Linked DNA regions of Homo sapiens: region 1 is linked to region 2. Evidence: fine-mapped expression QTL. Tissue or cell type: esophagus mucosa. Region 2 holds a variant in brackets; the other region holds the start of a gene. All regions are shown on one strand. Distances are from middle to middle.

Region 1 (5,380 bases), 29 kb after region 2:
ACTACACACACACACACACACACACAAACACAAACACACACAAGGAGACACACAAACACACACAGGGAGACACACACAAATACACAACACACACACACAAGGAGACACACACAAACACACACAAGGAGACACAGACAAATACACAACACACACAAGGAGACACAGACAAATACACAACACACACAAGGAGACACAAACACACACAAGGAGACACAGACAAATACACAACACACACAAACACAAACACACAAGGAGACACACAAACGCATATATATATAAAACAACATGTATATTTATACATTCTTTTGCATCCTTTTCCCACTTAGCAAACAGTGACAATTTCCTGTCACTAAAATGCTTTTGAAGACTTCATTGTAAATGGTTGAATAGTATGCTATATCACCTGGAATTATGAAATGTACTTAAGCATCCGTATTGCTTCACATATTACTTGTCTCCAGATTTCTCTTATTCCTAGTGTCAACAACACCCCTGGTGAGCATCAGTGCCCAGACACTTTGATCCCACTTCTCTGATTTGTCCACTAGAATTGGTTCCAAGAAATAGGAGATTGGGTCAGGAGACAGCCATGTTTTTATTACTCTTGATAATAATTTTTTTTTTAGGCGGAGTCTGGCTCTGTTGCCCAGGCTGGAGTGCAGTGGCTCTATCTCTGCTTACTGCAGCCTACAACTCCCGAGTTCAAGCGATTCTCCTGCCTCAGCCTCCCGAGTAGCTGGGACTACAGGCGTGCACCACCATGCCCGGCTAATTTTTGTATTTTTAGCAGAGATGGGGTTTCACCATGTTGGCAAAGCCGGGCTCAAACTCCTGACCTCAAGAGATCTGCCCTATTCGGCCTCCCAAAATGCTGGGATTACAGGTGTGAGCCACCATGCCTGGCCTTACTCTTGGTAATAATTAATTAATACACTTTTATGTTTGTGTCTCTGTATGCTCACCATTTTTTCCAATTAAAAAAGTAATAGACCTTAAGACACGAAAAGAGAAATCACCAGTAATCCTAATATTCAGATGCATCTTGTTTTGTCTTCCCAGCCTATTTTATGATAGGCAAAAATAAGATGATACTACTATAGATACTAACGAGTTTGTTATCTGCATTTTAGATCCAACCCACCATGGACATTTTCTCACGTTACTAAATCTTTTTCTACTTTACTATCTGCAAAGTATTATAATAAATGATTGGCTTCATTTTAACATATACTAGGTAGTAAAGTGTATTTATGTACTCAAACTAATGAATCTTCCATTGCTTGACAACATTTTATTGGAGACATGGTCTTGCTATGCTGCCCAGGCTGGTCTCAAACTCCTCGGCTCAAGCAAGTTTCCCGAGACAACTGTTTTGTGAAATATTTTTTATTGTTTTCTTGTTTTAAATAATCATGCTTATTGCAGAAATATTTGAAAATACTGAACAGCCAGGCACCTTTAAAAAATTACAATCTGAGTGTCATAAATGGACACAACATTGCGTGAAAGAAACCAGTCACACAAAAGCATTGACCGTATGATCCCCATTTTGAAAAACAGGCAAAATAGAAGTAAGATGTGTGGGGATGCATGCTGAGATGACAAAACTATGAAAGCAAGCAAGGAAGTGGGAATATTGTGTATCTGAAATGAAATGCTGGCTCCATGGGTGTTCACCCCACCATCGTTCATTGAGCTGCACACTTGTGTGCTTTTCTATATGTGTGTGACCCTTCACAATCCAAATAGCTTAGAAAAAACTCAGAATCTCTCAAACCCAGTTAAAAATGTCTCCTAATAGCTTAGGATGTAGATTTTCAGTTCGATTTGTATCTATGATTATATCGTACATATTATTTTGAAACATGTAATTTGTATTTGAAATATTACGGACACCTCCCTTTTGGTCACACAGAATGTCAACTAGAATGGCTGTCATGAAAAACATTAAAAATACCAAATGTTGGAGAAAATATGAAGAAACTGGAACCTCCATCATTGCTGGTGGGAATATAAAATGGTGCAGCCACGTGGGAAAACAGTTGAGCAATTTACAAAAAGTTAAATGCGCACTTAACATATGAACCACCAATTTCACTCCTAGGCATCTACACCAGATAAACAAGGACATATGCCCATACAAACTTTTATATTCAAGTGTTCATGACAGCATAGTTTATAATGGCCAAAACATGGCACCAAACCAAATGTCCAAAAGCTGATGAATGAACAAACTGTGGTCTACCCACACAATGGAACACCATTCAGCAATGAAAAGGGACAACCTTCTCATACCTGCTGCAACATGGATGACCCTTGGAAACGTGCCATGTGAAAAGAGCCACACAAAACTCTTATACCTTGTATGATTCCATTTGTATTGTCAATGTTGGCGTATAGCTCCATCGCGTGGACATAGCATAAATTCCTTCACCAAGCCCTGTTGTTGGACTTGACGTTGTTCCCCGGTTTCCAATATTACAAGCAATGCTGTGAGGACCATCTTTGTGGCTACATATTTGTGGCCGACCTTATTCATGTCTTTGCACCAATGCCCAGAAGTGGAACTGCCAGTCTGAAGGTGTGTGCATTTTAAAGCTTTCGGGAAATATCGCGGAGCGGCCCTGCACAAAGTTTGCTCAGACTGCACTCCCACCAGCAGATCTAGAGGGTCTAGTGTCTCCTTTCTCCAATACAACACCTCCCTCTTGGCGCTACTCACCCATGGGAGGCTGTCCCAGGTCCCAGGGTCCCCCCGCTCACCATGCTCTGTATTTGTTTGTAGTTTCCTGGGTGCGCTGCCACCATGGTCTGGTTCTGCAACAGTGCCGACTGCCAATTTTCAGTCTTCGCCCTTACCACCATAGGATGGATCCTCTCCTCTACGTCCACGGGCCTCGTGGAGTGGCGAATATGGTACATGAAAGACACCTCGCTCTACCCCCCTGGAATCGCCTGCGTGGGAATATTTAGAGTCTGCATTTACCGGCGTCGCACCAACAGCACCACAACCAAATTTTGTTACCGATACAGCTACCAGGACACCTTTCTCCCTTTTGAAATTTCCATGGCTCAACGCTTCCTACTGACTGCCAGCATTTTCGGATTCTTCGGGAGAGCCTTTAACATGTTTGCACTTAGAAACATGTCCATGAGAATGTTTGAGGAGGACACCTACAATTCATTCGTTGTTTCAGGAATTCTCAACATTGCTGCTGGTGTCTTTAACTTAATTGCTGTGCTCCAGAACTACGATGCCGTCATAAACTCACAGGGGATCACCTTCCTGCCATCTCTCCAAATGCCCTTCAAGCCAGATGTGCAGGAAGTTGGCACTGCCATTCAAGTGGCAGGGATAGGTGTCTTGCCGATGCTGTTAACTGGGATGTTTTCTCTGTTTTACAAATGTCCCCCGTACGGCCAAGTGCATCCTGGTATTTCAGAAATGTGAATTTCCTGGTTGCATTGGCTTTGCAAATCTAAGATTTCTGGGAGTTTATGGAAAATGTTATTAGCATGCTCTACCAAATATTTCCAACGACTCAAGACCGTGGCATGGGTAGTTTGGGACAGAAGGTGGCCAACTGCCTCCTTCTGTTATCTTGTGTATCTGAATGTGGCTCACTGATTTGTTGGTTGAATTGAGAACTTTTATTTAAAAGTCTTCCCACCTGCCAGTTGGTCTTATTGCATCTGAATTTTAATTATTGTTGGCTACAGCAAATAATCAACCCTGTAAACTAAGAGTAGGGAAATAAGAGTTTCTGAGTACATTAACTTCTCACATTTCCCTCTTAAACTTTTGCTACAAACAATCATAGGCCAGGCATGGTGACTTACGCCTGTAATCCCAGCACTTTGGGAGGCCGAAGTGGGAGGATCACTTGAGGCCAGGAGTTCAAGACCAGCCTGGGCAGCATAGCAAGACCTGGTCTCTACAAGAAAAAAAAAAAATAGCTGGGTGTGGTGGTGCGTGGCTGTGATTCTAGTTACTTGGGAGGCTGAAGTGCGAGGATCACTTGAGCCCAGGAGTTGGAAGCTCCAGTGAGACGTGATGGCACCACTGCACTCCAGCCTGGGCCATATAACAAGACCCTGACTCTTTAAAAAAACTCCAATAAACAAAAAACCAAGAATGGACCTTATTTTCTATGTCATGGTAATAACATCTCCCTACCATATAAAGTTTTCTAAAATGTGCAAAAGTAGAGAGGATAGCATAAGGAATCTCCACACACCCATTGCCAGACTCCACAGTTACTGAGATTAGGGCACTTCTGCTTTCTCTTTCCATTCTTTTACCTTTCTAATCTATGTTTCTTTTTCCCAAGTTTTTTTTTTTTTTTGAGACAGAGTCTTGCTCTGTCGCCTGGACTTGAGTGCGGTGGCGTGATTTTAGCTCACTGCAACCTCTGCCTCCCAGGTTCAAGCGATTCTCCTGCCTCAGCCTCCCGAACAGCTGGGATTACAGGCACCTGCCACCATGCCTGGCTAATTTTTGTATTTTTAAAAATATTGGGGTTTTACCATGTTGGCCAGGCTGGTCTCAAACTCCTGGCCTCAAGTGATCCGCCTGCGTCGGCCTCCCAAAGTGCTGAGATTACAGGTGTGAGCCACTGCACCCGGCCTCTTTTTCCTAAGTATTTTAAAGCAAACCCCAGACACCATGTCCCAGACACCATGTCCCTTCATCCCCATATACTCTTAAAAAGTGGACACTTCTCACATAACCATATATGTAAAAAACTGAGCAGTTATTCCTCATTATGAAATAGTCAGAATGTTTAGATGCCTTAAAAATAATTCTGTAGTTTTATTTGTCCCACACAAAGTGCTCACTCTGCCTCTGAAGTGTCCATCTAAAACACTCCCCCAGTGCACGCGCGCACACACACACACACAGAGCAACCCCTCTGCCTTTTTTTTTTTTTTTTTCCCTGAGGCAGGGTCTCACTCTGTCACCCAGGTTGGAGTGCAGTGGCATGATCAAGGATTGGTGCAGCCTTGACCTCCAGGCTCTGGTGAGCCTCCCACCTCAACCTCCAAAGTAGATGGGACTACAAGCGTGCACCACCATGCCTGCCTAATTTTTTGTATTTTTATAAAGATGAGGTCTTGCCATGTTGCCCAGGCAGGTCTTGAACTCCTGGGCTCAAGCGATCCTCTTGCCTCAGCCTCCCAAGCACTGAGATTACATGTGAGAACCACCGTGCCTGACCTCATGTGCCTTTTTAATAAATGATTTTGATTTGCTGAAGAAAGTGGATTAATTTAACTCGTTACCTCTAGAGGCTTGATTAGAGTCCTGGTCAGTTCTCAGGAAGAGTATTTCATAGGTGGTACCACGTACTTCCTGCTGACTGCACTATGCCAGGGGTAC
Region 2 (5,380 bases):
AGGCTGGTCTCAAACTCCTGGGCGCAAGCAGTCCTCCCACCTTAGCCTCCCACAGTGCTGGGATTCCAGGTGTGAGCCACTGTGCCTAGCCAGGGTTTTCCTTCATAAGTCTGACCTATCTAAATGGTATTTTCCACAGTTAGACTTTGTAAATTGTCTTCATGAGGAAGCAGTTGTGAGGTGTCTGTGAGTCCCTAGATAAAACACATCAGATGTTGCTGAACCCTACTGGAGAGAGGGAGGAAAATACGCAGTTAGTTCATCTCAGCCTGAGCACCACTGCCTTGATAGGGAAAGAGCCCTCCTGCATTCCCAGTCACCAGTGAAAGAGGGAAAAACAGCATTAAATTTAGAGCATCGTGGCTGCCCTCCTGCTGTGGAAAATTGGATACATTTGTGTAACATCGTAGGGGCAGTTTTGGGTTGACTTCATTAGAAACACATCCTAATTTGGGGTTGTGGAGTTTGGCCTGTTTCTTTTTGCTTCCCTCCTGACCACCAGCATATGGGGCTGCTTCTCCAGTGCTCTGAAAAGCTCTTGGCTGAGATGGCCCTGGTCAGCATGGTCTAGCACGGTGCCGCTGAGAGCAGCAGGTGCAGGGCTGCCCCAGACAAGGGACTGTGGCATTGCTGGGCCTGTTCCTCCTGTTCTCTCTCCCCCAGTCTCCCAGGGATGCTTTAGGTACCTCTCTAGTCCCTTTCATCCAGAAACTTTTCTTTTTTTTTTGAGATGGAGTCTTGCTCTGTTGCCCAGGCTAGAGTGCAGTGGTGTGATCTCAGGTCACTGATCTCAGCTCACTGCAACTTCTGCTTCCCAGGTTCAAGCGATTCTCATGCTTCAGCTTCCCGAGTAGGTGGGATTACAGGTGCGCACCACCACACCCGGCTAATTTTTGTATTTTTAGTAGAGACAGGGTTTCTCCATGTTAGCCAGGTGGGTCTCGAACTCCTGACCACAAGTGATCCACCCGCCTCGGCCTTCCAAAGTGCTGGGATTACAGGCATGACCCACCACATCTGGCTGACACTTTTTTAAAAAAAAAGCAAAACTGTGCCCTTTGGAAGTAATACAGAACCGATGACTCGCTGCTTACTGCGAGATCGTATCTCACTGGTGTGCAAATCTGTGCAACGCTAGCTTGAAGCACAGCGGGCGGGGGGTACAAGGACAGTGTTGGGTGGGCTGTCCTGCATATGGCACAGGAGGTTCTCCCAAGTGGGGTGGTGGGGGGCTTTGGCCTGACTCCAAGCACGGCCACTCCGGAGAGGAGCCCTCCCCAGGCCCTGAGAACTACGCAGGAACCCGCGGGCCTGCACCAACCTAAGGACGGATGGGAATCCTGGAAAATGCCCATCCACTGCAGGCTTCCCCTACAAAAGAACATTTAACCCAACAGGGCTTGTTGAAGTTTGCATTATCATCTGCGGAATGACAAATGGTATTAAATAGTCCTCACAGCCCTCCACGAACCCCTGGAGGACACCTTGGGATGCCTCAGGGGTGGCATTGGCGGTTTGAGCATAGAAAGGATGCTGTGGTTGGAAGGCGGAGGTAGGAGTCAGAGGGAGCTTCTTGAGGCCTCTGCCTCATCCAGGATGTGGGATCATGGAGGCTCCTTCGAGTTGGGTGGCTGGCTAGTGCCTTTGAGTCAGGTTCCCATCCAGAGGGGAGGGCAGGGGACACGTCAATCAGGGTCTGTGGCTGGAGCATGCTTTGCGATTTCAGCAGACTGTTCATCTTCCAGAATTGAGCGGGTGATGGACAACAACACCACGGTGAAGATGGTGCCCATCAAGATCGTGCACTCGGAGAGCCAGCCAGAGAAGGAGAGCCGCCAGAGCCTGGCATGCCCCGCCGAGCCACCTGCCCTGCCCCACGGGCTGGAGAAAGACCAGATCAAGACGCTGAGCACATCTGAGCAGTTCTACTCGCGCTTCTGTCTGTACACGCGGCAGGGTGCTGAGCCCGAGGCCCCACATAGGGCCCAGCCGGCTGAGCCCCAGCCCCTGGGCACCCAGGTGCCCCCCGAGAAAGACCGCTGCACCTCCCCTCCAGGGCTCAGCTACATGAAGGCCAAAGAGAAGACTGTGGAAGACCTGAAGTCGGAGGAGCTGGCCAGGGAGATCGTGGGGAAGGATAAGTCCCTGGCCGACATCCTGGATCCCAGTGTGAAGATCAAAACCACTATGGACTTGATGGAAGGCATCTTCCCCAAAGACGAGCACCTCCTGGAAGAAGCCCAGCAACGGAGGAAGCTGCTCCCCAAAATCCCCTCTCCTAGAAGCACAGAGGAGAGGTGAGTAGGCGTGGCCTCCCAGCTTGGGCGTGACTCTGCCTGGCATCTCTTAGGCTTGTAAAGGGAAGGGGGTCTGCCTCTCTGTTTTCATGCGTGCTTTTGGGGAAGACGGGTTTTCATAAGGGCTCCTCGATGCTTAGCACTTTTTGGCTTTTTTGTGAGCCTCCGGAAAGAGAAATGGAGGGTTAACGGCTTTGGGCCTGACATGAAAATACACACTGCAGACCACCAAGCTGCCTTGGCCTGAGGCCAGCAGGATTTCTGATGATGCCCACAGGTCTCCTTTCTCGTAAGACAGCTGTTCTCAGTGGGGGCC[G/A]CTGTCTACCCTGGGGGACAGTTGGCAATGTCACTGTGGGGAGGGGTGTTCCAAGCATCTGGTGGGTGGAGCCCAGGAACACTGCTCAACATCTACAGTGCACAGGAGGGCCCCCCCCACAGAGAGTCATCCAGCCCCCACGTGTCCCTAGTGCCAACATGAGAATGAAGGCTTAGATTGAATATATATGTGTTTCTTTATGAAATGTTTTTTTAAAACTTTATTTGAAATTTTTTTACATCTGCATTTAAAAAATTTATTATAATTTGGCCAGGCACAGTGGTGCACACCTGTAATCCCAGCACTTTGGCTGACCGAGGTAGGCAGATCATTTAAGCCCATGAATTCAATACCAGCCTGGACAACATGGCAAAACCCAGTCTCTACAAAAAGTACAAAAAATTAGCCAGGCGTGGTGGTAGACACCTGTAGTCCCAGCTACTCGAGAGGCTGAGGTGGGAGGATCACTTGAGCCCAGGAGTTGGAGGCTGCAGTGAGCTATGATGGTGCCACTGCACTCCAGTGTGGGTGACAGAGTAAGACCCCATCTCTTGAAATAGAAATGAAAAAAAATTACGACAATTTACACCTGCCTGAACAAATGTATTTTAATTGGTTTTGTAAGTAGCACTTTCAGCGTATCTCCTTCAGCCACTTGACCACAAAGGCATGCGTGGTGGCATCTTCCCTGCTGCTGACATATGTTCTGCCAGCACAGCGTCATTCATGGGTAGGAAGGTGGAGTGGGTATGACACACAGCCAAGGAGGAGCAGCTGGACCAAGTGGACCCAGGCAGGAGGGCGCCGACAGGGCTGCTGGGAGGAAGGGAGAAGGGTTGGTGTTTGTAGATAGCGTCACACATGTCCTTGTCCTCATCAACCCAGGCTCCTGGTAGAGATCATCTGTGCTCTCACCTCTGTAGCAGAGATTCTTAGATATTCCTGCTTATTTGAGTTTTTGCCTTTTTTAAAAACTATGTTTCATACACTTACGAGTATCCATTTGACAGGGTTGATGGTTTTTAGTTTTAACCTTGTTACCTACTTACTTTTCCCCCTTTGGCTGTCTCATCTCCCTGGCTGGTGTCCTTTCGTGAGCACCAGTGTTGATTTGTCACAACCCAGGGGGTGGGGCAGAGGGGCTGTTTGCGTGCACAGTCCCAGCTCATTGAAGTTCCCACACCTTTACCCAGGAAAGAGGAGCCCAGCGTGCCTGCGGCCGTGTCCCTGGCCACCAATTCTACCTACTACAGCACGTCGGCCCCCAAGGCGGAGCTGCTGATCAAGATGAAGGACCTGCAGGAGCAGCAGGAGCACGAAGAGGATTCGGGAAGCGACTTGGACCACGACCTGTCGGTGAAGAAGGTAGGAGAGTCCATTCCAAATGACAGCGTGTGCGTGTCCAGGCAGGGGCAGGCATCCGGATCACACCATCCTGCCCCAGCGCAGACCCTGCACCACGTGTCCCAGGGCGTTTGTGTTCAGCTTTCACTCAGGACAGTGGAATTTGAGGTGATATTAGTGAAGCCCTCTGTTGTTAGTTCTATGTCCTAATCTTGAGCCATTCCACAAACGTCTCTTTGCTGTTTCAATAGGATCCAATGTCAAATTAGTTTAGTCACCATTCTCTTTCATTTTATCTTATTTATTTATTTTTGAGACAGGGTCTTGCTCTGTCGTGCAGGCTTGAGTGCAATGGTGCAATCATGGCCCACCGCAGCCTTGACCTCCTGGCCTCAAGCGATCCCCCTGCCTCAGATAAAGGAAAATTATTTTCAAATTAGAAAGTGGTAACTTTTTTTTGAGATAGAGTCTCCCTCTGTCACCCAGGCTGGAGTGCAGTGGCACACTCTCAGCTCACTGCAACCTCTGCCTCCCGGGTTCAAGCAATTCTCCTACCTCAGCCCCTCGAGTAGCTGGGATTACAGGCACCTGCCACCAAGCCTTGCTAATTTTTGTATTTTTAGTAGAGATGGGGTTTCACCATGTTGGCCAGGCCGGTCTCGAACCTCAAGTGATCCACCCACCGCAGCCTCCCAAAGTGCTGGGATTACAGGCGTGAGCCACTGCTTCCGGGCTGGAAGATGGTAACTTTTTGGTTCAAGGTATTAAAAAGGGAAATGAAAATTAAGGGTTTAGGTCTTGGGGCTTTTACGGGCCCTCCATCTGGCACACGGTACCATTCGCTTCATTCTGGTTGCACATTCCTCTTTTAAAAAATAATAAAGAATCCAAAACATGTTCGGTTTTTCCACACAGAACCAGGAAAATCATACCATCTGGACCATTTGAATTTGGGTCACACCCTAGGTTTAGAGAACTGCATTCTTTGCTCGCATGCCTTTGTTTTTCATGATATAATGAATTTCAGAAGCGGCATGCCTTGATTCTGCCGCCCTCATCTGTGGGGCACTCTGTCCACCTGCTTTGGGAGGCTGGAGATGCTGGGAAGCCGCCTCACCAGAAGTGTGGCTCCGGAACTGAGTGAGTCACTGTGGGCTGGAAGTTGGCCTCACTTTAGTTCAGCAAGTGTGAGTTGGGCACCTGCACCAGAAGCACATGCTGTACATCCCAGCTCTCTATGGTGCTGATGACTCAGCGGTCCTGTTTTCCTGCTTGATTGGACAAAGCGGCCACTGCTGCATTACATTTTCTCCCTGCTTTCCCGCAGCCACACGCTTATGATGTCGCACATTCCTGCAACGCGTGCACAGGCGGAGGCGTGTTCAGGGAGGAAGCGAGCATAGCGCAGATGGGGACTTAGCAG

Which allele goes with the higher level. Positions count from the first base shown, and alleles are read on the strand shown. Sizes are in standard deviations (SD) of each study's normalised expression.
As copies of G replace A in region 2, the expression in esophagus mucosa of the gene that starts at base 2,807 in region 1 goes up (small effect, 0.26 SD a copy in GTEx).

Evidence for each region. PIP is the estimated chance that this variant, and not a neighbour inherited with it, causes the effect.
Region 1: it holds the start of CLDN34, and the variant in region 2 is the best candidate, but not a certain one, in a credible set for the expression of CLDN34 in esophagus mucosa (GTEx, PIP 0.53).

Annotation. Positions count from the first base shown.
Region 1 is chrX:9,964,552-9,969,931 of GRCh38, forward strand. CLDN34 (claudin 34) reads left to right here and starts at 2,807. Exons shown (of 1, transcript NM_001195081.2): 1 at 2,807-3,801. The coding sequence starts at 2,807. The coding sequence ends at 3,451.
Region 2 is chrX:9,935,389-9,940,768 of GRCh38, forward strand. SHROOM2 (shroom family member 2) reads left to right here. Exons shown (of 10, transcript NM_001649.4): 7 at 1,746-2,297; 8 at 3,807-3,978. Among named protein-coding and RNA genes, the nearest start is that of CLDN34, 29 kb to the right of the region's middle. RefSeq lists enhancers at 3,975-5,174, 5,259-5,380. The variant G/A (reference allele first, on the strand shown) is at 2,614.